Linked DNA regions of Homo sapiens. The protein of the gene in region 7 purifies or fractionates together with the protein of the main gene of each other region. This does not show direct contact. Each region holds a gene or a part of one and is shown on either strand. Other genes may lie near its edges. The genes, in order: IARS2, ADK, NHLRC2, ETFB, EPHX1, PITRM1 and ASS1.

Region 1 (3,500 bases), on a different chromosome or scaffold from region 7:
ATTTCTCACACATGTATAATGAAAAAATGGAAGTCCAAGGTCCTTCCAGATCTAAAATTCTACAATGTTATGAAACTAAATCATAATAGCAGCAATCCCTATTACTCCTGAAACCCCACCTCAACCTCACATGCAGCCCCTTTATACTGAGGGAATGATATGCCCGACCTGTTAAAACAGGATGCTTTTTATACCTTGGCTGCAGTCTTAATATCCGTGATGTTTATAAACCACTGCTTGCTGGCACGAATAACCACAGGTTTCTTGGTCCTCCAGTCATACGGATAGCTATGCACCAATTTCTCCTCTTTCAACAAATTCTTTGCAGTCTGAAGCATCTTTATAACTTTAAAAAAAAAAACACCAAATTAGACATAATTAAAAAGTACTGTGAAAATCCTAAAAATGCTCTAAACTTCCAGAAAATACTAAATCTGCAGCAACAGGTGGCAATAAGAGTAGTCACCTTGCCAGCCACAGTGGCTCACACCTGTAATCCCAGCACTTTGCGAGGCTGAGGCAGGCAAATCACGAGGTCAGGAGTTCGAGACCAGCCTGACCAACATGGTGAAACCTCGTCTCTACTAAAAATGCAAAAATCAGCCGGGCATGGTGGTGTGTGCCCATAATCCCAGCTACTCAGGAGGCTGAGGCAGGAGAATCGCTTGAACCTGGGAGGCAGAGGTTGCAGTGAGCCGAGATCGTGCCACTGCACTCCAGCCTGGGTGACAGAGCGAGACTCCGTCTCAAAAAATAAAAGAGTAGTCAACTTGGCTGGGCGTGGTTGCTCACGCCTGTAATCCCAACAGTTTGGGAGGCAGAGACGAGAGGATCACTTGAGGTCAGGAATTCAAGACCAGCCTGGCCTGCATGGTGAAACCCCATCTCTATTAAAAATACAAAAAAATTAGCAGGGCACAGTGGTGTGAGCCTGTAATCCCAGCTACTTGGGAGGCTGAGGTGGGAGAATCATTTGAACCTAAGCTAAAGCGGAGGCTGTAGTGAACCGAGATTGTGCCACTGCACTCCAGCCTGGGCAACAAAGCGAGACTCTGTCTCACAAAAAAAAATAAAATAAAAAAGAGTAGTCACCTTCCAGGTATCAAAGGCGTGCTCTGGGATTCTCCTGGCAAAAAAAAGCACGGACTGTAAAATCTTAATCAGACTCCAAATTATGCCACTTCTACCTCTTTTCACGTCAAAGAAAAGATGAACAGATTATATCTAGAATTCTACATTTGAAGTTTAGATCCATAATCTTTCATGCCATGAATCTTAAAATGGTCTCCAGGTAATCTGGAGGAAACCAGGTGTAGTGGGTTGAACTGTGTCCCCAAGAAGATCTAACCCCCAGCACTAGTGAATGTGACCTTACTTGGGAATCAGGCCTCTGCAGATGTAATCAAGTTTAGATGAGGTCACACTGCATTAGGGAGCACTGGTGTTCTTAGAGGAGGATAGAAAGAAGATTATGTTTTTGCCACTGATTCAGCCATGTGAAACTCATCTCATTACCCTTTTCTGGGTTTGAAGCTGCTGTCTCTAAAAGTGCCATCTCATTGTGCTTAATATCAGTTAATGCTAGAGAAATCTTAAATAGCTTATGTACAAAACTTTTTTAAATTTTTGTATTATTTTGAAACTTTGCTTCTTTGGGTGGCACCCTGGCCACCCAGTTTGACTGTGACAGCCCTCTACAGTCTGTGAGCTGGCAGATTTTTTTTTTTTTTTTGAGATGGACTCTCGCTCTGTTGCCCAGGATGGAGTGCAGTGGTGCAGTCTCAGCTCACTGCAACCTCTGCCTCCCAGGTTCAAGTGATTCTCCTGCCTCACCCTCCAGAGTAGCTGGGATTACAGGCACCTACCACCACACCTGGCTAATTTTTTGTATTTTTAGTAGACACAGGGTTTCACCATGTTGGCCAGGCAGGTCTCGAACTCCTGACCTCGTGATATGTCCGCTTCAGCCTCCCAAAGCGCTGGGATTACAGGGGTGAGCCACCGTGCCTGGCCGGGCTGGCAGTTTGCTGATCTTTTAAAGTTTCTTTCCCTACCCAATCCCCACTTTCCGATAAGGTTTCTGTAAAGTCTGTCAGGTGTACATCCTGCAGCATACTGGCTTAAAACGTACTGTCCTTTGATATAGTCTCTTTGGGGCCGATTGGGAGAAACAGAAATCAATAGTCCACCTGCTTTGATACTGAATATTGACAAGTGTCTTTTTGAAATAAAGAACCAGTCCCTCCAATAAAAAAAAAAAAAAAAAAAAAAAAAAGAGGATTCACAGAGAGACATTTAAGACCTAAAGAAGGTGGCTGGGTACGGTGGCTCACACCTATAATCCCAACACTTTGGGAGGCCTAGGCAGGTGGATCACTTGGGGCTGGGAGTTTGAGACCAGCCTGGCCAACATGGTGAAACCCTGTCTCTATTAAAAATAAAAAATAGGCCGGGTGCGGTGGCTCATGCCTGTAAACCCAGCATTTTGGGAGGCCAAGGCAGGTGGATCACGAGGTCAGGAGATCGAGACCGTCCTGGCTAATATGGTGAAACCCCATCTCTACTAAAAATACAAAAAATTAGCTGGGCATGGTGGCAGGCGCCTGTAGTCCCAGCTACTCGAGAGACTGAGGCAGGAGAACCCATGAACCCAGGAGGCAGAGCTTGCAGTGAGCCAAGATCGTGCCACTGTACTCCAGCCTGGGCAACAGAGCGAGACTCCGTCTTAAAAAAAAAATAAAAATAAAATAAAAAATAAAAAAATTATGGCCTGACACAGTGAGGGCTCACGCCTGTAATTCCAGCACTTTGGGAGGCTAAGGTGGGCAGATCACCTGAGGTCAGGAGTTCAAGACCAGCCTGGCCAACATGGTGAAACCCCATCTCTACTAAAAATACAAAAATTAGCCAGGAGTAGTGGTGTGTATCCTGTAATCCCAGCTACTTGGGAGGCTGAGGCAAGAGAATTGCTTGAACCCAGGAGGCAGAGGTTGCAGTGAGCTGAGATCACACCACTGCACTCCAGCCTGGGCAACAGAGTGAGACTGTGTCTCAAAAAAAAAAAAATTAGCTGGGTGTGGTGGTGTATGCCTGTAATCCCATCTGCTCAGGAGGCTAAGGCACAAGAATCACTTGAACCCAGGACACAGAGGTGGCAGTGAGCTGAAAGCATGCCACTGCACATCAACCTGAGTGAGAAAGTGAGATTGTCTCGAAAAAACAAGTAAGATCTAAAGAAGGCCATGTGACAAGACAGGCAGAGAGTGGAGTAACGCAGTTATAAACCAAGGAATGCCAAGGATTTCCAGGAGCCACCAAAAGCTAGAAAGAGGCAAGTAAGGATTCTCCCATAAAACCTTCAGGAAAACATGGTCCTGCCAGTACGATGAATTTAGACTTCTAGCTTCCAGCACTTGAGAGAATAAATTTCTGTTGTTTCAAACTACCAAGTTTACGGTGATTTTTTACAGTAGCCCTAGAAAAGTAATATATCAGGTCTA
Region 2 (3,500 bases), on a different chromosome or scaffold from region 7:
ACAGCAATTTAGCATACTAAAACAATTTAGTAATTTTACTGTAGCCTAAGTGATATCAGAAGAAAATCTGACCTACTTCTCACTAATGGGAAAACTTTGCACCTACAGATTAAGGCTGGTCTTGGGAAAACTAAGGGCAAAGGTCTAAACAAACATATTTCAACATTTTTAGTTGTTTTTTTTTAAAATCCCTGAATCCCATATTTCAATGTTTACTGTAATCTTAAAACCATAAAGTTCTCCTGTATATAAAAAACAAAATTAAAGGAAAGATCTGAAAATGCCTTTCATACCCTAATAATTTTTGAATATTGTATTTTGGTTATTTAGTAAATACTGTGCTTATTGATCCCCAGTCTCTAGAATAGTCCATTCCTTAATATACCTCTGCTGAAGGTCAAGTAGTGAGCAATAAAGTGGGTAAATAGAAGAAATGGAGCAAGGTCGTGGTGGAGAGGGGGAAGAAAATAAAGGAGGATGAAAAGGGAAAAAAAGAAAGGAAGAGAAGATGGGAAAAGAAAGGAGATAGGGAATGGAGGAGGACAGACTACATATTTCCAACTATAAGTAATGCAAAATTTCTAGTGAATCACTATTTAAAAAGAGGTCATCTTTGATTATCCCAACAATATAATAGCTAGGGCAGTTATTTTGTTTTTCCCTTGCAAAGGGGAAAAAAGCCTGTGCTGATATGGTAATAACGTTAGCAGTGCATGAATACACTGAAGGAGTATCTCCATGTGGGTACAAAAGAACAACCAACCAATATATGGAGGGGCCTGAGAGAGATATTTCAAGTTCATATTAAGAATACTTTTCTAATAAGTAAGGGTGTATAGAAATATACTTGGTTGTTTTGTTAGTGGTATACTACCCACGACTGAGTTTATTCAATATGAATGAATTACTATTTGCCAGAAATGGTTTAGATGACCATTTAGATGACTAAGTCTTACGAGCCTGAATGTAATGTTGTATTTTATATACATAAAATACACACACACACTCTCTCTCTGTCTCTCTGTCTCTCTCTCTCGTATTCCAACCTCAGGATATGGTGAAAAGAACATTGTTTCTAATTCAAGTTTTGCAACAAATTAGCTACAAGGTGTTGAGCAAGCTACAAGGCATTGAGCAAGCTATCAGCCTTTTCTGATTCTAATTATAAAAAGTAGAGACTGGACTAAATAACCTCAAACTTTTATTCCATTATGCCTCATGAATTCAACTGCATGTTTAACAAAAGTAAATTTAAAAACAATACAGGAAAACTGATATAAGGAATAAGCATTTATCAAACATTAAAAGGAATTATAAAGTCAAAATTCCAAATTCACATTGGAATTCATATTTTACCAGTGTTAAAATAGCCAATTAGTATAGTGGTTCCCTTGGAATTACACTGACCTGTTGTCACCAGTGATGCATGCAGCACAAGTTCCTGTTGGCTGCTCATTCTGCTCGTAGTAATGAGCATCCACATGGGCTTCAGCAGCTTTTCTCTTCAGGATCTCCCCAAATTTATCTATCCCAATGCATCCAAAAAATGTTGCTGCTTTGTGTGGCTGTTGAATCATCCACTGTAAAACAGGAACATAAATAATTTAATGGGGCAAAAAAATGGTACACATAGTTTAATATTCTGCCACAGATAGTGATGTGACAAGAATGCTTTGTGAGAAACTGTAGCTGTTATGAATGGGATTTCAATTCTGTGCTATCACTTACGATTAAAAAAACTTAATATAACAACCATGTAATATCTTATACTGCTTTGGGGAGAGAAATAAAGTACATAAAGTTGTTAAGGACTCAGCAGCTAAAATCATACAGACCTTAAGACAAATGCTGGCCTGATATAGGAAAATAATAGTGGGTCCCAATATAAGAAGTCTAGCATTGTCATAAAAAGAGCAGAATCCATCTTGATTGAAGACTCTCTGGGTTCAAATCTTGCTTCTGCCACTTACTAGCTGCATGAGTTAGAGCATGTTAGAGCATATCTCTTAACATTTCTCATTTCACTCATGTTTAAAGTGGAGATATAATTACAAATACATCTCATAAGGTCGTTGAGGACTAATTGAAATGATGTAAATTAATGTACTTGCATTGCTGAGCATGGTACCCAGCACATAGTCAACAACATATATTAGCTGTGGCTGTTACTATGATTGTCATACTTATTGTAGTAATTCATATATAAATTAAGCTAAAACATGCTCATATCTAAAAAAATTCTTTTAAAAATTCAGAAATAGTGTTACAGTTCTAGTTACAAATATCTCATTTTTTCATTGAAGTAATTATTATAAGCTTTAATGGATTTCTTGTAAGATGCATATGTTTCACAGATTTGAACTTTTTACCTTTTATAATTAGCTCAAATCCCTGAGGGTTCTAATATTCTATAGTGATTCTATAGGTAACACCTGTTTAGTTTCAAAGACTTACAGGTAGCAAAATAACCTACAAATAATCTACATACAAAGTCAAAAGATATCAAAATAGATTTTGATAAAATCTGTTCTCAAATATTTGGAATAGAAAAGAAATACATGCATATTTGAGAGGTAAAAGGATGAGGAGAGGAAAAAGTAACAAAGACAGAACTGTAAGAATGAGACATAGTAACAGCTTAATGACCAGCAATCCCACTTCTACAGACTCATCCACAATATAAAACAACACATATATAAGTATTGAGATGTTATTTGTAATGGCAAAATGTTGGAAATAAACTAGAAGTCCACCTGTAGAAGATCAGTCGATTAAATTATGATATATCCACACAATGGAATACCACACAGCCATTCAAAAATCCCAGCAAAACAACACAAAAAAAGGAAAAGCTCTGTGGAACACTCCTTCTATACAAAGTAATTTCCAGGATATTTTGTTAACTTCAAAAAAAAATCAAGTCTCAAAGGTAAAAAGCTTTGTTTAAAAAATAAAACTTAATAATATATATTATTTTCAAATATGGGGGACAGCTTCAGGACATTGGATTTAGCAATGATTTCATAAATATGGAACAAAAGCACAGGCAACAAAAGCAAAAATAGATAAATGTGATTATATCAAGCTTAACTTCTGCATGGCAAAGGAGGCAATCAACAGAGTGAAAAGGCAACTTATTTCCAAACCATATATCCAATGAAAGGTTAATATCCAGAATATATAACAAACTTCTAAATGAACAATAAAAATACAAATAACATGATCTTAAAATGGGCAAAGGACTTGAATAGACATTTCTCCAAAAATGATATATAAATGGCCAATAAGCACAAGAAAAGATGTTCAACATCAGTAATCATCAGGGAAATCAAAACCACAATGAGATATCACTTCACACTGATCAGGATGGTTACTACCGAAAACACAGAAAACAAAAAATGCTGGCAAAATGTGGAGAAGTGAATGAACCCTTGTGCAGTGTTGGTGGAAATGTAACATGGTACAGCCACTACTAAAATGGTATGGAAGTTCCTGAAAGA
Region 3 (3,500 bases), on a different chromosome or scaffold from region 7:
TTGTTCCTTAATCATTTCCATTGCCTTATCTTCAGGTTCACTGATTCTTCTTTCTGCCTACTCAAATCTGTCTTCGAGTCTCTACATGGCCCCTGACCTATGAGGGTATGACTTATAATTTTTCAACTTTACGATGAGTTTATCTGGACATAATTCACTGTAAGTCAAAGAGCTCCTTAGGATTTAGAAAGTTATGATTTCTACTGAGTATCACCTTTCCACCATCAAGTCAAAATATTTTAAGTCGAATCATCATAAGTCAGGGACCATCTGCTGTGCTACCAAGCATTAAACATACTTTCTCAACTTCATGATATTTTCAACTTACCATGGGTTTATCAGCTGCACTATAAGTCAAGGAGCCTCTGTAGTGAGTTTCTCCTCACTGTTAGTCCACTTTTCAGTTCCAGAATTTCTTTCTAGCTTCTATTTAGGTTTTCTCTTTATTGTATTTCCATTTTCTTCATACATTGTTTTTTTAAAACTTTTTCCATATTTCCCTTTAGTTATTTGGGCATCTTTAAGACAGTGTTTTAAAGTCTTTGTCTCATAGATATGTATCAGGTATTTTTTAGAGACAATTTCTATCGGTTTATTTTTTTCCTTTGAATGGGCTGTACTTCCCTGTTCTTGAATGGGCTGTACTTCCCTGTTCTTTGTGTATGCTTTGTGATTCTTTGTTGAAACTGACAGTGAATTCTTGCTCCACTTACAAAGTATTTTGCTTTTCAGAAGCATATTTGTATATAAAAATATTTTTAATTTTTTTGTCACAATGTGCTATAAAAACAATGTTTCCAGTAAACTAGTAGGAGATTATAAGGATCCATTCTAGGAAGTCACTGAATCTGCTTAAGGTATGGGGTTAACCATGAGTTCACCAAATAGTCTTTCAGGGGTGATCTTAGGTATGGAACTGGTAAACTTTGAGATTCTTAACTCCATGTGTAATGCCATTCTAAAACACAAATGTCATCCGTCTACTAAAAAAACAAATCAAAAACAAACTTCAATCTCTGTATCCTCACAGAAGGAAAAGTCTAAACTATTAAGAACGCTATACAATGCATTTCACAATGTGCTCCTAACCTAACCTACCTTTGTCTCCTTTTACTTTTACCATGAACTCTTACAATCTTGCCACACTAAATTATTTACCTGTTCTTGGAGCAAGAATCCTACTCCTCTGTGATTCCATGCTTGTTTACCTGAAGCTTCCTCAGCCAGGAGTGTCCCTTCTGCCCCACTTTCATTTTCAGCTGCACTCCTGCTTATTTTTCAAGTTCTAGCTCAATTGTCTCCTTCTCTGAGAAATCTTTTCCAATGTTTCTAGGCAAAGTGACTTATTCCTTTCCTTAGGTTCCATAATGTTTTTTATTCAATTTTGTTACATATTTCCTCAGCAGTTAGCAGAGTACCCTGCACATAACAACATGTTCAATAAACGTGATGTCTTGAACAAGAAACACTGGCATCTAAAACCTAGGAGATAAGATATCCATATTTCTTAAATCCATACAGATAAATTTTTAATAACAGGATTTAGCTAGTAGAAATATTTGAGTTCTTGATAAATCATTTGACTGGTAATTTTAACATACAATGTATTACAATTCAAAAGCATCTGAAGTTTCAGTTGCACTGAAGATTTCTCTATCACTTCCCCTTTAAAGTTAAGTTTCAGAATATCCTTTACTTTCACACGTATATAGTCTATTCTCATCTTTACTAACACAGGATCGGTGACCCTATCTCTTTTTTTTATCCACTCCAAGATTAGTGCTTCAATTCACTTGAACCTAATTAAATGATACTTTTAATTAATTTCATTTACTCCCATGTTCTTTTTTTAGAAAGTAGACAAAAAAAATTTGATTAATTTTTCAAACTTCTAAAGCCAATAAGTATAATCTCCTACATCTTTAGAATTTGTAATACCATAAAAATGGATTTCCTAGTGTGCTTTGAAAAACATTAGCTGTAATAAATCATTTTTTAATGAAGCAGGGTCAAAGAAAGAGTATCTGTTATATTTTGCATTCCACTGCAGTTCATGTCATTCAATATTAATGAAAGCCTAGTCACATTTCCTAATAAGAACTTTAAACCTTTGTATCACAGTGAAAACAGTGTAAAATTAAGGTCAGATATTTTATTTTTTTAATAGAACAAATTTAAGTCAGCCTCAACATACAAAAAGACCTTTTAAAATATCTGATCATGAAAAATAGCAAATTATGCCCCTATCCGCAGAGAAAAACCATATACTAAATGCTGGTTCTTTAGATAGGCAAACCACTATCACTAAGCTTAATCCTTTATGAAAAGGTACATGAAGTCTTTAATTCATAGATAAGAGATTACTTTTAGAATCCCTGAAGCCTTGCCAAATGTTCATTCTCCTATGAGCTAATGAGTCAGCCACTCTTCCAGTGACTATGCCAGGACAGTCTGTTAGAAACTAATTAAAGAGCAGATACCTTTATCAGAGTATGTGTGTTCTAATGCATGGAGATCAGGCAATAGGTGAATACAGTTTATGCAGCAGTAGGTGAAGAAATCAAGGACGACTATTTTTCCACATAGATCCTTGTAGACAGAAATAGGTTCTTCTGTGTTCAGCCATTCTAATCCTGAAATTTACATAAAATAAATTACAATGATTAAAGAGAAAGATAAAATTTACCTAAAACTTTCCATTAAAATGTGACCTTTTTTTTTAAGACTAATGCAAATAAACACTTTGAGAGAGTAGCACCATATAAAGGCTGTGGCAGTTGCATGTATTTATAGTTGTTTACTATGAACCATCATTTTCTATCAACAAAAGAAATAAAAGATATATCTTTATGACTGTAACTAAACAGGTATTTGGGTTTGGAAGAACATACCAAAAAGGCAAATTAGCAGAGATTAAAAGCCCAAAAAGGGAAGAAAGAAAAGGAAGGGATGGGGGTACGGGTGGGGGAGCAGGAGGAGTAGAGGATGGGAAAGCTGCTATTATGATGCCATCTGCAAATAAAGCAAGAAAAAGCTACTAAATTCTTTCAGAAATAGGGTAACAGTCTGTGAAAAGGAGTAAAGGCAACACACTTAGGCAAAAAAAAAAAAAAAGGAAGAAATATCAAATAGTAAATGAACCTAATTACATAAACAATTAGATACAAATGGGCTACTGAGAATAAAGGTCAAGCTTAAGAATAGTAAGATATAACTAAACATCAAAAAGGAGTGAAATGTGTGTAAGGATAAACATACAAAATGCCTAAAACAGTTTCCTAAAGGAGAAGAAACTGAAATATTCTGGATTTGGATGAGACCGTAAATACAAAATAAAATATGCTAAATGTAAAGTTAAGCAAAATACACTTATTATTGTCACAGATTTCATTGAGGTAACATTAATATTAATGAAGAACGTGTTCCCTTTCCTCCAAAAAAAGAAAGCTCTGTACTATGAAGAAAGATTTTGTTAACTAATAATAAAGTACAGCATCCCT
Region 4 (2,360 bases), on a different chromosome or scaffold from region 7:
CTCCAGCGTCACCTGGGAGGCGAATGTGCCCTGGGGAGGGACAGTGTAGGAGGAGAGTGGGTGAGGCTAATTCAGGTCCGACCCGAGCAGTCTGCTTATGCCACTACTGAGTACACGCATGGACTAGTGAATGAATGAGGGAGCGAACAATGCAGGGTCCCATGAGGTTTAGAATCGAGCTTGTACACCTGGGAGAGGGTCTTTTTCCTTTCCCTGAGAGCCACGGTGTATGTCCTGATGTCCCATGTCCTGATGCTGCCAGTGAGGCCTCCCTGCCTTCCTGACAGGGAACATGTACTGAGTGCTGAGCCCTGTGCTAAGCAACTGATGTATCAAGTCATCGAATCCTCGCAGGAACTTTATGAGGTAAATGTTATTATCCCCACTTTACAGATGAGAGAAACTGAGGCAGCAAGATGCTGAGTTACACGCCCACTGCCACCCACAGCTGGTAAATCCAAAAGCTGACAATCTGGCTCCCAACGGCCCCCCGTGAGGCCCCTCCGCTGGGCAGACAACAGAACTGTGTGTGTCCACACCAGTCCTTAAACCACCTTCTGGGACCCCGTCCTCTAGCCAGGTCCCTTTGCCTCTCAGTCCTGAATCAACATTTCCTCCCCTGGTAACTGATGCCACCTACACTCCTCTTTGTCTAACGACCTTTGTCCCTGTCCACTTATTAACTGGACACATTTTTCAGGTCTTAGTGTGAACATCACCTCCCTTCATTCACAACCTCCTCCTAGTGCCCTTATGAACCTGCCCCTGGAGACACACTGTGAACACGACCAGTGAAGCACCAGCTTGGGTGGGCTCATATTCTGCCAGGGAAGACAACCAGTCACCAGGGAAAAACACACACACACAAATGAGATCATTTCCAATCAGAAGGAATAAGAAGAAAATAAGACACATGATATGAGAGCAAGAAGGGCGCACGTTGGAGAAGCTAGTCAGACAGTGGTAAATGCTTTGAAGATAAAACAGGATAATGGTTTTGAATGTGTTGTCCCATCCAGTAGCCACTGGCTGCGTGTGGCTGTCCAGCCAGTGCAGCTGAGGAATGAATTTTTACATTTTATTTAAATTTAAATACTGATAATTTGGCCAGGCGCAGTGGTTCATGCCTGTAATCCCAGCACTTTGAGGGGCCAAGGCGGGTGGATCACTTGAGGTCAGGAGTTCAAGACCAGCCTGGCCAACATGGCGAAACCCTGTCTCTACTAAAAATACAAAAATTATCCAGGTATGGTGATGCACGCTTGTAATCCGATCTACTCGGGAGGCTGAGGCAGGAGAATCGCTTAAATTCGGGAGGCGGAGGCTGCAGTGAGCCAAGATCGCGCCACTGCACTCCAGTCTGGGGACAGAACAAGACTCCACCTCAAAAAAATAAAAATAAATAAATACTGAGAATTCAAGACACATTATCATGATTGTGGTGATGATTTCATGGATGTAACACATATCAAAACTTAAATTTTGGAGGGCTGAGGTGAGCAGCTTGCTTGAGCCCAGGAGTTAAAGACCAGCTTGGGCAACATAGTGAGACCCCCATCTCTATCTAAATAAAAGAGTTTAAGAAAAGCAAACTTAACAAATTGTGCAACTTAGATATGTGCGGTTTATTGTAGGTAAATAACTCAACGAAGCTGTTTAAAAAAAAAACAAAAACAAACAAACAAACAAACAAAAAAACACAGATACCCAATGCAGTTACTGGAAATGCAGTTACTAGAAAACTTTTAAGTTTGTTTTGAACAACTTGGGTGTGTAAATCTATTTCAACTGTCATCTTTAGGAATGTGTTTCTCATAGAAATTTAGCACCTGAATTGAGATGTGCTGTAAATATAAAATACATGCTGAATTTTGAAGATTTAGTACAAAGAAAATCCAAAAAACGTAAAATACAGATGGTCCCTGACTTATGATGGTTTGAATTAAGATTTTTCAGTTTTCCGATGATGTGACAGTGATAAACATTCAGTAGAAACCATACTGCCAGTGTCCGTACAACCATTCCGTTTTTTTAGTTCCAGTACAGTATTTGATAAATTACATGGGATATTTAGCACTTTATTATAAAATGTGCTTTATGTTAGATTATTTTACCCCACTGTAGGCTAACGTTAAGTGTTGTGACATGTTTAAGGTAGGCTGGGCTCAGCTATGATATTTGGTAGATTAAGAATATTAAATGCATTCTCTCAGTTATAATATTTTCAATTTATGATGGATTTATCAGGACGTAACCCCATTGCTTGTAGAGCATATGTATCTTAATATTTTTATGTTGATTACATGTTAAAATAATATTTTAGATATAATGGGGTGAAATAAAATATAATTTTGTCTGTT
Region 5 (4,263 bases), on a different chromosome or scaffold from region 7:
AATTGCTGTTGATGGGATTTATGGCCCTAGCAGAGGTGGGTTTTCAGTATGAGATCCTAGGCACCCCTCGAATCACTATCTGTCTATCCCATCTGTGCCCACTCTGTCCCCGAGTGGGTGGGCTTCGAGCTACTTCTTCAGCAGGGGTGACCAGCTCATGCTTGGTCCTCCCTTATTTGGTACACCCAGCTGTGATCCATGTGGTTGAACCTCTTGGCGTAAGAACTGAGAAATGAATCTCGGTAGCCCCTGCTTTCACATGTCTGGGCCTGGGCCAAGATACCAGAACGGGAATCAAGGTGCCAGGTGAGCAATCACCAAGCCTGGGTATCAGGTCGACAGGAGGGGCACTGTGCATTGGTGAACCTGGGCTCCCTGAAAATGCCAGTTATGCTTAAGACATCAGGCAGGAACCAGGACACCCCAGGAGAGTCACTCCACCTCCTGCAGTGGTCAAGATGCCCTTTCTGCAAAGGTCCCTCTGCCCACAGAGCCCTCATTCAGGGCTTCCTGAAGATGTTCCCAGCCGCGTAAGTCCATGCCAGCTAGTGTGCTTCAGGCACAGCTGAGAGGCAGGAGGCATCACGCAGAGAGCATGTGGCTTGTCACAGATGGTGCTGAGGTTCACCCTGGCTGTCTTGCTGAGTAGTTATTTTCTGTGGAAGGTCCTTCCTTTCCTGGAATTGGGAAGAAGGCCGCAGAAAGCTCAGGAGTCCCCTCACTTACAGACTGAGCTAGTTCAGTTTATCCAGTAGGTCACTCATCAGCTTGACCCACACTCTGCAAACACAAACATCAGGCCATTCAAGCTGGGCACACTCCTGCCCCCAGCCTTTGCACCTGCACCCCAGGCAGCAGCTTGGCTGCTCCCTAACTCTTCAGGTCTATGCCAGTGCCACCCTTCAGTGAGGCCTTCCCTTTCCACCTGGCACTCCTCTCCCCTCTTTAAAGTTTTATTTATCTCCATATTACACATCATCTTCTAACATACTTTATAGTTTACAAATGTATTTTGTTTATTATCCCTCTGCCCCTAGAACTGCAAATCCCACGAGGGCATGCTCCCCGCTGTGCCTCAGTTCCACAGTGAGCAGTTCCTAAGTACCGCCCATGCCTCCTCAGCGCCTCCTAGGTGTGGAAATTTGGGAAAGAAAAACTGCTTGGAGAGCACTCGCAGAGTTTTTGCTGCTAAGTCAGACCAAGTGGGGCCAGTGAAAGGCCCCCTATTATCCCCCAAACCTAGCTCCCTGAAGGAGGCAACCGTTACACCAGAAAACAATGTTACTTTCTGGAGAAGTGTGGCTTCCTGAAAATGTTTATTTTAAATTATGCTGGATGCAGAGGAGGCTGCACAGTGGTACCGAAACAGCCACCAACCCCAAGGTCCTCAACAATTTTCCACCAACAGCTCATCAATCCCAGCAAAGGGCTGTCCTGGAAGCGGGCCTGCCAAGTGCATGGGTCCCCCTCACCTCCCACCTCCAGCCACAAGCTGAGCCCTCACAGAACTTCCAGGACAACGAGTGTTGCCTGTAGGGGCGGATCCAGGCTTTGCGGAACCTGAAGTTTAAACAATGGGAGGTGGGCTATGGAGGGGGCATTCAACTTTAAGAAAAAAAAGTCAAAATTAGGATTACAACATTGCTAGGCACCCCACCTCCAAGATCTCGGGAGCCGCCAGGGCAAGGAAGGAGCCAGAAGCTCAGAGAAAACCGACATCTGCCAGGGAGGGAGGCAGGCGGCCACTCGGTCTCCGCGGCGCTTTTGCTCAGGTTGACCACATTCCCTGGCTTCAACTACAAGGTGAACTCCCGGGCAAGTTTCCTGTTCTACAAGAGGAGAGGGCTGGCCTTCAATCCCGAGACCAGAGCGAGGGGGTGCCGGGCGGCGGCTGCGGCAGCAGATGGAGATGAAAGCGCATTTCAACTAAAAGGTGTGATCAGTGTCAGGCCTCTGAGCCGAAGCTAAGCCATCATATCCCCTGTGGCCTGCACCTACACATCCAGATGGCCGGTTCCTGCCTTAACTGATGTCATTCCACCACAAAAGTGAAAATGACCTGTTCCTGCCTTAACTGATGACATTGTCTTGTGAAATTCCTTCTCCTGGCTCATCCTGGCTCAAAAGCTCCCCTACTGAGCACCTTGTGACCCCCCCCACTCTGCCCGCCAGAGAACCCCCCTTTGACTGTAATTTTCCTTTACCTACCCAAATCCTATAAAACGGCCCCACCCCTATCTCCCTTGGCTGACTCTTTTCGGACTCAGCCCGCCTGCACCCAGGTGAAATAAACAGCCATGTTGCTCACACAAAGCCTGTTTGGTGGTCTCTTCACACGGACGCGCATGAAAATCAGTGTTCCGACTTGGGTGACAAATTAAGTGCATTTCACCGCCGAGCGAGCCACGGCCCTGGAAGCAGAGCTCGCCCAGGCCAGGGGACGCGGTGCGCTCTCGGGGTCGCGAGCCTCCCTCCCTGCGGCGTCCGCCCACAGTCTGGGACGCGGAATTCCCTGCGAGAAGTCCGCGGTCGCCTGCAGGCTCCTTCCCCCAGTAGGCGGCACGCGCAGTCTCCTGGCCGGGGCAGGAGCTGGGGGCGGACCAACTACAAGTCCCTCTGCACCCCTGCGGGCCGACCGCAGCCCCGACCCCTCGGCGCCCCGGCCCGCCGCCCACCCCGGCGGCCGAGCCCGCGCGGAGCCCGAACCGCGTCTGCGTCCGGGGAGTGCGGGCCCGGCCGGCCCCGGGCGCTTACGGTCTCGGCTCGCAGGCTCCGGCGGCGGCAGGCGCGCGATCTCTCCGGCTCCCTGGCTCTCCTCGGCTAGTTTTCAGCAGCCCCGGCGCAGTCTCCGCCCAAGCCCGGCCTCCGAGCGGGGCGTTCCCCGGCCTGGAGGACCCGGGAAAGTCTCTAGGCCTGCCTAAGGCTCCACCTCTGCCAGGGATAAAACGGGCTACTTAAAGGGCGGTCCGCGGCCCCGCGGCCAGAAATGGAGAGAAGCGTTTGGCAGCTCCTACAGCAGTTTGATCCCGTAACTTCGTCAGTTGAATCTAAAAACAAAAATCCAAACTTGCATGATGTATGTCCTTTTTTTTTTTGGAGACAGAGTCTCACTCTATCACCCAGGCTGGAGTGCAGTGGTGCGATCTCGGCTCACTGCAGCCTCAAGCGATCCTCCCACTTCGGCCTCCAGAATAGCTGGGACTACAGACTGCGCCACCACACCTGGCTAATTTTTTAAGTTTTGTAGATACGGGGGTCTCACTTTGTTGCCTAGGCTGATCTTGAACTCCTGGGCTCAAGCGATGCACCTACCTCCGCCTCCCAAAGTGGTGAGATTATGGGCGTGAGCCACTGCACCTGGCGGTGTATGTCTTTTTAATTTCATCTTTCTAGCAATTCATTCTTAGTATATTTAACAAACATATTGGTCCGTGACATGCTTGGAAATCTAAAAACAAATTAGTGTCTTTATACAGAGAATGTGAGAAGCAATGGTCTGAAGCACTCTTGGGGGTCTTCATGGTGAGGACCAGTATAGGATGCTGAGTTCAATGCCAGGGGAGCAACCTCTTAGTGAATCCCCTCCCGCTTTGGAGAGAGCTCAGGGCCCAGGCGGGTGGTTGCTGGGGCTCTTTTAGCTTCCGTGAGAGCGTTGATCCCCAGCCCCTCATCGTTAGAAAGCCTGTCCCATCGCCTCTGCCATCACCCCTCCTTAGCTTCTCTCTTCACCTGCTCAGAGGTGCAGTTCTTTCAACCACCAGCATCCTCACGATCTCGGTGGACAGACTACAGCTAGGAGGCCACATGCAGGGCCCGTGGCTGGAGTTCTAAGCTTCTGACTGTCACCTTGCACACTTCAGGATAAGGTTCACCACCACCCACCTTCCCTTGGCCTCCAACCTTTCTGCTCACCCTGGCCCAAGAATTCTGGCCGGCAGACGCACTCACCTCACTCCCACCTCCAAACTTTTGCTCTTGCAGTACTGCCGGACAGGGTGCCCTCCTCCATCCACATGTAGAGTCCTCTTGTCCTTTAATTCTACACCCTCCTATAAAAGCTTTCTCTTGCAACTGCAGTCTCTGACATCTCTGTATTCCTTTCAGAACCTGCAGTCTGGGAGAGTTCTTTCCCCTCCCCTCCAAATAGTTCACACAGAAGCTCTGCCTCTGGCCACTTCACCAGGGGACCCAAATTCGTTACTCTTAAAACTGCAGTGATGGTGAAACAGGTAGGAGTCAGGACTTAACGCCAGAGGTGGGGCT
Region 6 (3,500 bases), on a different chromosome or scaffold from region 7:
TCCTAACACTCAACAAGCTTCTGCTGGTGTGTTCTTGGTCCTGTGGTTCCACTTTCCCACTTTAAAAATAGTAATAATAGAACGCACCTCAAGAGTTGTTTTGCTGATGCAAGTACACAAGCCTTATAAAATGCTTACCACCATACCTGCCTATGTAGTAAGCACAGAATTCATATATGCTGTTATTCTACTGTTATTATTATTATGGTCATTAAGTCTTAAACATATCAATACTAAACATTTTCATTACATCTTAGTTGTAAAAAGGTTTGCACTTTCAAGTACTACAGATCTTGGATTTTAGTCTAATTGAAGATAATATAGAATTCTATTTTTTGTCTAGCGTTCATTCTACTATTAAGCTCTAAAAGGCTAGAACTACATTTCCCATTCAATACTTCGTAAGTTATTAGAACAAAATACATGTTGACGTTAATATAAAAATGAACATTAGGTGATTTCATGTCCTTTCCTTGTTTCAACAATTAAAAAACTACACATGCACAAAATGCTCCCATATAAAATACTACAAACAGGTGAGATAACTAGAAGACACCAGAAAGTTCATGGAAAATAACTTACAACAGCTGAGAGAAACTGCAGGTCAAATTATTAAATCATATCTCATGTCTAAAACAATGGAACCTACTGGAGAGTTTCCCTTCACAGCAGACAACAGTCTCTCCCACCACGGGAACCCTTTTTAAAAGTTCTACCATAGTAATGAGTACAAAGCAAAGAACAGGCAACCAAGCACAACTGCCTAAAAATCTGAGAAAACAAACGCGCAAGCATCAAAAGAATTCACTCATGAAAACCAGAAGATTCATTACATTTGGGTGACTGTTCACATATTTTATATTCTTCTACTAATAAAAGAACAATATATGCAGATGTTTTGTTCATACACACAAACATACATATATTCACACACTAAAAATGCACATATACATTTATCTAAAAAACTCAACTTGCATTACAATCTGGAAAATAATTAAGTTAATGTAAGCATTTAAATTTTTAATTAGAAATTAAGTCACCCATTAACAGAAATTACTTAAATGTATAGATTATGTTCCTAATATTCCTTTCATTAGTATAAAATTCAACTTCAAAATTAGAGAAATGAATTATCCAACTTTCTTACCTTAAAATACTGTTTTACTTTTTCTTGCAAAAATTTTGGATTTTCCTGCAGGCACTGTCTGAATTTAGCTAACTGATTTCCCAACTTCAAGAGCTCCACAGGGTCCCCATCATGGTTCCAGCAAGAAGCTATGTACTGGAAGGAAGATTTCCACATCCACAATGCAGCTGGTACCACAGTACAACCTCCACCAACAGCCCAGACTTGATACTAAAATCCTAGTTTCTGTATTTAAATATACCACAGATGATTGTTTATAACAAAAGTCATGTAATTCTTTGGATGGAGAAACAAAAAAACTTACTTTAGCCCTGTTTTGTTCCAATAAAATAAAAAGCACAGGCTGAAATAATGTTTAGGAAATAACCAACAGATTACTAGTTATAAACCCTTACCCATTTAAAGTAATCTATTTCACATAAAAATATCAAAAAGCCAGTTAAGCTAGTAACAAGACAAAATGTCTATTATAAAACAAAAACAAAATTGTTGAGAGATCACTTACTGATGTCAGCATCAGCCCAAAGCTGGTAGACTGATGTTTCATCTGTATTTCAATTTTATGAAGTAAAGCCTCAATTCGATCATCTTCAAATCCTTTCCTAAAGAATACAATGAAGAACAAAGATGGGCCAGACACAATGGCTCATGCTTGTAATCCCAGCACTTTGGGAGGCCAAGGCAGGAGGACTGCTTGAGGCCAGGCATTTAAGACCAGCTTGGGCAACACAGAGAAAGCCCATCTCTACTACACAAAAATTAGCTGGGCATGGTGGTGTGCACCCTAGTTCCAGCTACTTGGGAGGCTGAGGTGGAAGGATCACCTGAGCCTGGTAGGGGAGGAAAATGCAGTGAGCTGAGATCACGCCACTGCACAGCAGGCTGGGTGACAAAGCGAGACCCTGTCTCAAAACAAAACAAAAACCTAAGATGTTGAAGAGTTTTAGTAACAGAAGGTAGCAGAGATAATATTTAAACAACTAAATATGAACAAAAGCATGTTATATGACAGAGAAGGAAGGCCGAAACAATGGATCAGGCTCAGCTTCTCCCAAAAAGCACACAGGAATGAGGAACGAAAGCAGATTGTTACAAACAAGCTACACTCACTCAACTACTTCATCAATCGTTCTGTCTATGAGGCTTCTGACGGTCTCAATGTCTTTCTCCGCAATCCCTTGGAGGCCGACACTAAAGTAGGCCTCCCTCGTGTAGCCATTATATCTAGAAGACAAAACCAGAAATGATGCACTGGAATCCGGGCACGTTCATCATGCCCTCGTAATATGCTTGATTTAAAGATCAGAACGAAGCGCCTTAAACTCCAGCCCCTCCACTGAAAAGCTCATTAAAGCAGTGTTCTCAAGTAACTGGTTCTGTGTACATCCATGTCATTTTTACATCATTTTTTAAAAATAAAATTTAAACTTTTGAGTTATGGCAGGATAAATATCAAAACAGAGAACTGCTGAGATTTACAAAATTTTAAAAATTCCTGTAGTCCCAGCTACTCTGGAGGCTGAGGCAGGAGAATGGTGTGAACCCGGGAGGTGGAGCTTGCAGTGAGCCGAGATCGCGTCACTGCACTCCAGCCTGGGCGACAGGGAGAGACTCCATCTAAAAAAAAAATTCTAATACTTAATGACCTGACCTGTAAGAGACAACAGCATGACATTCTGAGGCCCTGGAAAAGCTGTCTTTGTGCTGGGTGTTTTTCTTTTGGACAAATGTCCCCTTGGGGGGACACAAATGGCTGGCACTGGATCCAGGATCTCATCCAGAGTTCCCTGATGGGGGCGGCCATCCTGTGTACCATGAGACACTCAGCAACTTCCTGGTCCGCCATCTTCCGATTATAGCAATCAAAAATCCAAAAATGTTCCAGACACTGTCAAGTGTGGGGCCGGGACAGGGTGCGGAGGTGGAGGAGCAAAACTGCCCCCAACCAATGAGAACTACTGATCTAATCTAATCATAAACTCACCCAACATCAGGAGAAAAGTCTGTGCCAAGGCCAGATTCAATCAAGGCTTTGTAAAAGGGAGAATTGGGCCCAGAAGTCAAGAGTGAAGACAGAAGACTTAATGTGAAGGCTTCAAATGTGTCGGTGATGCTGCATTGAAAAAAAAAGGAACGGGGAGGTAAGAAAAGAGTAAAGGGAAAATTACTGGCCCTTATGCACATTTTATTTAAAACCACTACACATCTTTCTAGAAATTCTTGCATTTCAACATTTAACAATTTTATGAGCAGAAGAGAATTTTCCTTAAATACCGGGATTTTTGAAGGGGGGCACAAACCATCAAATTAACTTCACTGCACACGAAATGCTCACCATGGGACAGCCTGCCAA
Region 7 (3,500 bases):
AGAGGGAGAAACTTGCCTAAGATCACACAGCAAGTTCTTGCCGTCAGAATCCCGATTTTCTTCCCTGTACGACACTGACTAAATTCTGTGCTTTTGGGGAGAGCCTCCAACAGCACACACAAAGTACCAGGGCAGAGTGAAGGCTGGGCTCCAGGAAGCTTTCCCCAGGTGGGTGGTAAGGAGCCACGGGGATTGGAACAGACTGTTGATCTCATGGCTTTGACCTTCTACGGGGATGAGGCCCCCATTCTGGGAAAAAGGTCCAGCCTCCGTGGAATGCTGTCAGCTACCATTCCACATTCAGAATAGTGCATTCCAGGTTTTCATCACTAACCACCTCCTTCAGTTCATTTTTGCTCAACTCTGCTTGACTCGCCCCACCCCACAGGATGCCATTTCACAGTGACTTCAGGCCAGTCCTTATCTTTCCAATAGGGAAGGCAATACACTTTCATCACGTATGCCAATCCTGATCATTTGGTAGTGCCTGCAAGCAGCCCTGAGATACCTCTGGAGTCAACAGGATAATGCCAGCATTGACTGGTGATGCCTGCCACAGGCATGGCAAGGGCATGCCTGTGGCAGGCCCTTATTATGATAAGACAGGTGCAATACTGGAACCCACCCCACCCCCCGCCACACTGACAGCTCCCAGAGGATGGGGGCTGCTTCTGTCCCCATTCCACATGCCCGGGGGACTGATGGCTATTTATGGAGCACTTCCAGTGTACCAGTTCCTGCCACCATACATGAGTTTGAACCCAGATCTGTCCAACTCCAGTCTAAGCTGTTAGCCCTCCACTCCATGCCACTCTGGGCCCAGATGGCAGTCCTGGTCCTGCCACTAAAGTGCCTGGGACTTGAAGCAAGCCCTCTATCCCACCCCTCCCCAGCCCTGGCTTCCGCATCTGTAAATGGGGTGCTGGTCTGTGGCTCCTCAAGGTCCCTCCCAGCTCTCCCTGGAGGGTGCACACCGCGCTGGCTCCCAAGGGCAGGCTGCGACAAAGGGGCATCTAATCACATGTTAATATAGGTAAGAGACAAAGGTAAGCCCGGATAAAAAGGAGCAGCTAATTAGTAACATTGTTCTCAAGGCCTCCCCAGAGCTTCAATTAGGTTGTTTCTCCTGAATAACAGCAAGCAAGGAGCTAAAGCCACAAGAAAGAGGCGAGCCTGCCTCCCCTTCCGCGCTCCCATGTCTTTCGAGGCAAGCCCGTCCCCGCCCCGGTCCATGCTGCCATGCCTTTCCAGGGAAACGCAGACAGGTCAGAGCCAGAGTGATGCAACTCCCAGCGCCTACCGCATTACACTTGGGGAAACTGAGGCCTAGCGATAGATGACAAGTCCAAGGTTGTTGGGCAAGGCAGGGCAAACCTGAGACCAGAAGCAGGCATCCTGCCCTCCGGACCACCACCCTTTTCTTCTGGCCCACATGGGGTGATCGGCTCTCTTTGGATTTTAGAATCTTAGTAAAAATAGCCTGAGAGACATGGGGCCGTGACTATACCGTGGCCAGGTGATATTTGGTTGTGGTATCTTTTCAAATCAACCCTAAGCAAAGAGACCTGAACATTTACCGAAACAGGAAGCCCTGACCCCACCACCAGTATAAAAATTCAGGTGCCCAATTCAGGGGCTGCAACTGCTGAAACCTTGCTCTTTCCCTCTTAGGACCCCCAAGAAAGAACACAGCATGGCTTTATCACACACTGGCAGACCCTCAGGGAGCTGAGATCCCCTTGGTGTATGAATGGGGAAACTGAGTCCTGGAGAGGAGGGTTGTGGTCAAGATGAAATGCTGATTGGCTGACAAAGGGAATCATGGGCTTTGGCTACTAAGAGAAGACAGAGGCACCTGCTTGGGGACCAACTGCCCTGCTCCTGGGCCCAGCCACAGGCGGATACGAGGCTAGGCAGGCTAGAGGCCAGCCGAGGTGGCAGGCATGTCACACTGAAGCTCAGCCTCAACTGCGGCACAGCCCCAACTGTGGCACAGCCCCATCCCTGGAGAAAAGGGCCAGTGAGCCGTGCCTGATGCTGGGACAGGTCCTTAGGCCCTGGCCGGCTCCCAGTGCCTGTGCAGCCACAGCGCCCACCCCTGGCAGGATTTTCGCCCTGCCTGGCCGGCGGCCTCCATGCGGCCTTAATGACCACGAAATCGGGCCTGCACGGTCTGCCTCCACACCCGGCCTGCCCACCCCAGACACAAGACAGCCTGACCTCCAGGCCTGGCCCTGGCCTCCCTGCTCCTCGGAGACTCCCCAGGCCCTCCTGGGCCTCTCCCAGCCCTTGGACAGCTCTTCTCATAACACCCTGAAAGTCAGGGGCAAAGGGCCCACGATCCCCACTTGGCAGGAGGGAAACTGCGGTCTCACGGGGTGTGGTGAAAGGACGTGCCCAAGGTCGCCCACGGAGCATGGGGGTAGTAGCGTCCAAAGGGGACAGGGTCTCAGGGATCTCTGGGTTTGCTGGGTCCCGAGGCAGGCCCTGAGGGAGGCTGAGCAGACTCACCTCGGGACTTCATTCCAATGAAGCGGTTCTCCACGATGTCAATACGGCCCACGCCATGCTTGCCCCTGTGGGAAGAACTGGTCCATTAGGTTCGGGCGCTACCGCAAGGCTCAGAGTCACCCACCCAGCTGGGCTGTCCCAGGGTGGGCACAGCTTAGGCCACACATTAGGCAGCATTTCAGGATCTAAGACTCAAGAGGACATCTGAGCCGGGTCACCTAGTCCAGGTGCCCACTGGACAGGTGGGGAAACTGAGGCCCAGAGAGAGCAGGGATTGCCCAGGTGTGAGTTCACATTGTTCCTTCCGTTCCCTGTGTCCTGGGGCCCTGCCTAGCGCCACAGCTAACTACTGCTCCCTTTCCTTCTATCCTGGCCTCCCATCCAGCCAAGGGCCTGAGAGCCCCGGCCTAATGATCCCTTGGAGGCAGGAGACCTCCTGGGGTTGTTATCTTCCAAGGCTAAGGACCACGGAGCCTCTCCTGCCAAATGGGTCCCCCTGGTCCGGGAAACTCTGTGGCTATGGGGAAGGGACATGGCCTGTGCTCCGCACCCCTGAGCCTCAGCCACAACCATTAGCTGCAACGGTCCAGGCTCGTGCTCGCCCGAGACGGCGGTTCCCAAGAGGCCGGACAGGGCTGCAGACACTCACGCGACTTCGTTCAGGTACATGAAGAGCTCCAAGGAGGTCTGGTGGGTGGTGCCATCCTTGACGTTGGTCACCTTCACAGGGACCCCTAGGGTGGGAAGAGAGGGCAGTGGGCCTCTGGGCCCGGCTCAGCGGAGGAGTCTGCACCCGCCACCCCACCCTCTCCCTCCTCCCGAAACGCCTTAAATGGATGTGACAGATATGGACTCCAAATGACTCCTTCAAAAGCCCTGTGCAGGTTGAGGCCTGCTGCAGGGAGAGAAGGGGCGAGAAAGCCCCCCAGAATGAAAGAGAAAATGCAATAAAAACGCTCTCCCCCACCCTCCCATTCTCTTTGCCCCTT

Evidence for each region.
Region 1: the proteins of ASS1 (region 7) and IARS2 purify together in Homo sapiens (affinity purification with mass spectrometry; one large-scale study listed by BioGRID and IntAct). This does not show direct contact.
Region 2: the proteins of ASS1 (region 7) and ADK fractionate together in Homo sapiens (co-fractionation; one large-scale study listed by BioGRID). This does not show direct contact.
Region 3: the proteins of ASS1 (region 7) and NHLRC2 fractionate together in Homo sapiens (co-fractionation; one large-scale study listed by BioGRID). This does not show direct contact.
Region 4: the proteins of ASS1 (region 7) and ETFB purify together in Homo sapiens (affinity purification with mass spectrometry; one large-scale study listed by BioGRID and IntAct). This does not show direct contact.
Region 5: the proteins of ASS1 (region 7) and EPHX1 fractionate together in Homo sapiens (co-fractionation; one large-scale study listed by BioGRID). This does not show direct contact.
Region 6: the proteins of ASS1 (region 7) and PITRM1 fractionate together in Homo sapiens (co-fractionation; one large-scale study listed by BioGRID). This does not show direct contact.

The regions. Positions count from the first base shown.
Region 1 is NC_000001.11:220,107,632-220,111,131, reverse strand, and holds part of IARS2 (isoleucine--tRNA ligase, mitochondrial precursor), read right to left. Parts: intron 347-3,500; coding exon 195-346; intron 1-194.
Region 2 is NC_000010.11:74,392,221-74,395,720, reverse strand, and holds part of ADK (adenosine kinase), read right to left. Parts: intron 1,581-3,500; coding exon 1,408-1,580; intron 1-1,407. UniProt on the Homo sapiens protein: Catalyzes the phosphorylation of the purine nucleoside adenosine at the 5' position in an ATP-dependent manner. Serves as a potential regulator of concentrations of extracellular adenosine and intracellular adenine nucleotides.
Region 3 is NC_000010.11:113,857,661-113,861,160, reverse strand, and holds part of NHLRC2 (NHL repeat-containing protein 2), read right to left. Parts: intron 2,634-3,500; coding exon 2,481-2,633; intron 2,475-2,480; exon of another isoform or gene 1,159-2,474; intron 1-1,158. UniProt on the Homo sapiens protein: Required for normal embryonic development.
Region 4 is NC_000019.10:51,347,029-51,349,388, forward strand, and holds part of ETFB (electron transfer flavoprotein subunit beta), read right to left. Parts: intron 31-2,360; coding exon 1-30. UniProt on the Homo sapiens protein: Heterodimeric electron transfer flavoprotein that accepts electrons from several mitochondrial dehydrogenases, including acyl-CoA dehydrogenases, glutaryl-CoA and sarcosine dehydrogenase.
Region 5 is NC_000001.11:225,808,661-225,812,923, reverse strand, and holds the start of EPHX1 (epoxide hydrolase 1), read right to left. Parts: upstream 2,801-4,263; 5' UTR 2,755-2,800; exon of another isoform or gene 2,309-2,754; intron 1-2,308. UniProt on the Homo sapiens protein: Biotransformation enzyme that catalyzes the hydrolysis of arene and aliphatic epoxides to less reactive and more water soluble dihydrodiols by the trans addition of water.
Region 6 is NC_000010.11:3,155,783-3,159,282, forward strand, and holds part of PITRM1 (presequence protease, mitochondrial isoform 2 precursor), read right to left. Parts: intron 3,261-3,500; coding exon 3,132-3,260; intron 2,372-3,131; coding exon 2,258-2,371; intron 1,750-2,257; coding exon 1,653-1,749; intron 1,283-1,652; coding exon 1,148-1,282; intron 1-1,147. UniProt on the Homo sapiens protein: Metalloendopeptidase of the mitochondrial matrix that functions in peptide cleavage and degradation rather than in protein processing. Has an ATP-independent activity. Specifically cleaves peptides in the range of 5 to 65 residues.
Region 7 is NC_000009.12:130,479,461-130,482,960, reverse strand, and holds part of ASS1 (argininosuccinate synthase), read right to left. Parts: intron 3,246-3,500; coding exon 3,161-3,245; intron 2,577-3,160; coding exon 2,512-2,576; intron 1-2,511. UniProt on the Homo sapiens protein: One of the enzymes of the urea cycle, the metabolic pathway transforming neurotoxic amonia produced by protein catabolism into inocuous urea in the liver of ureotelic animals.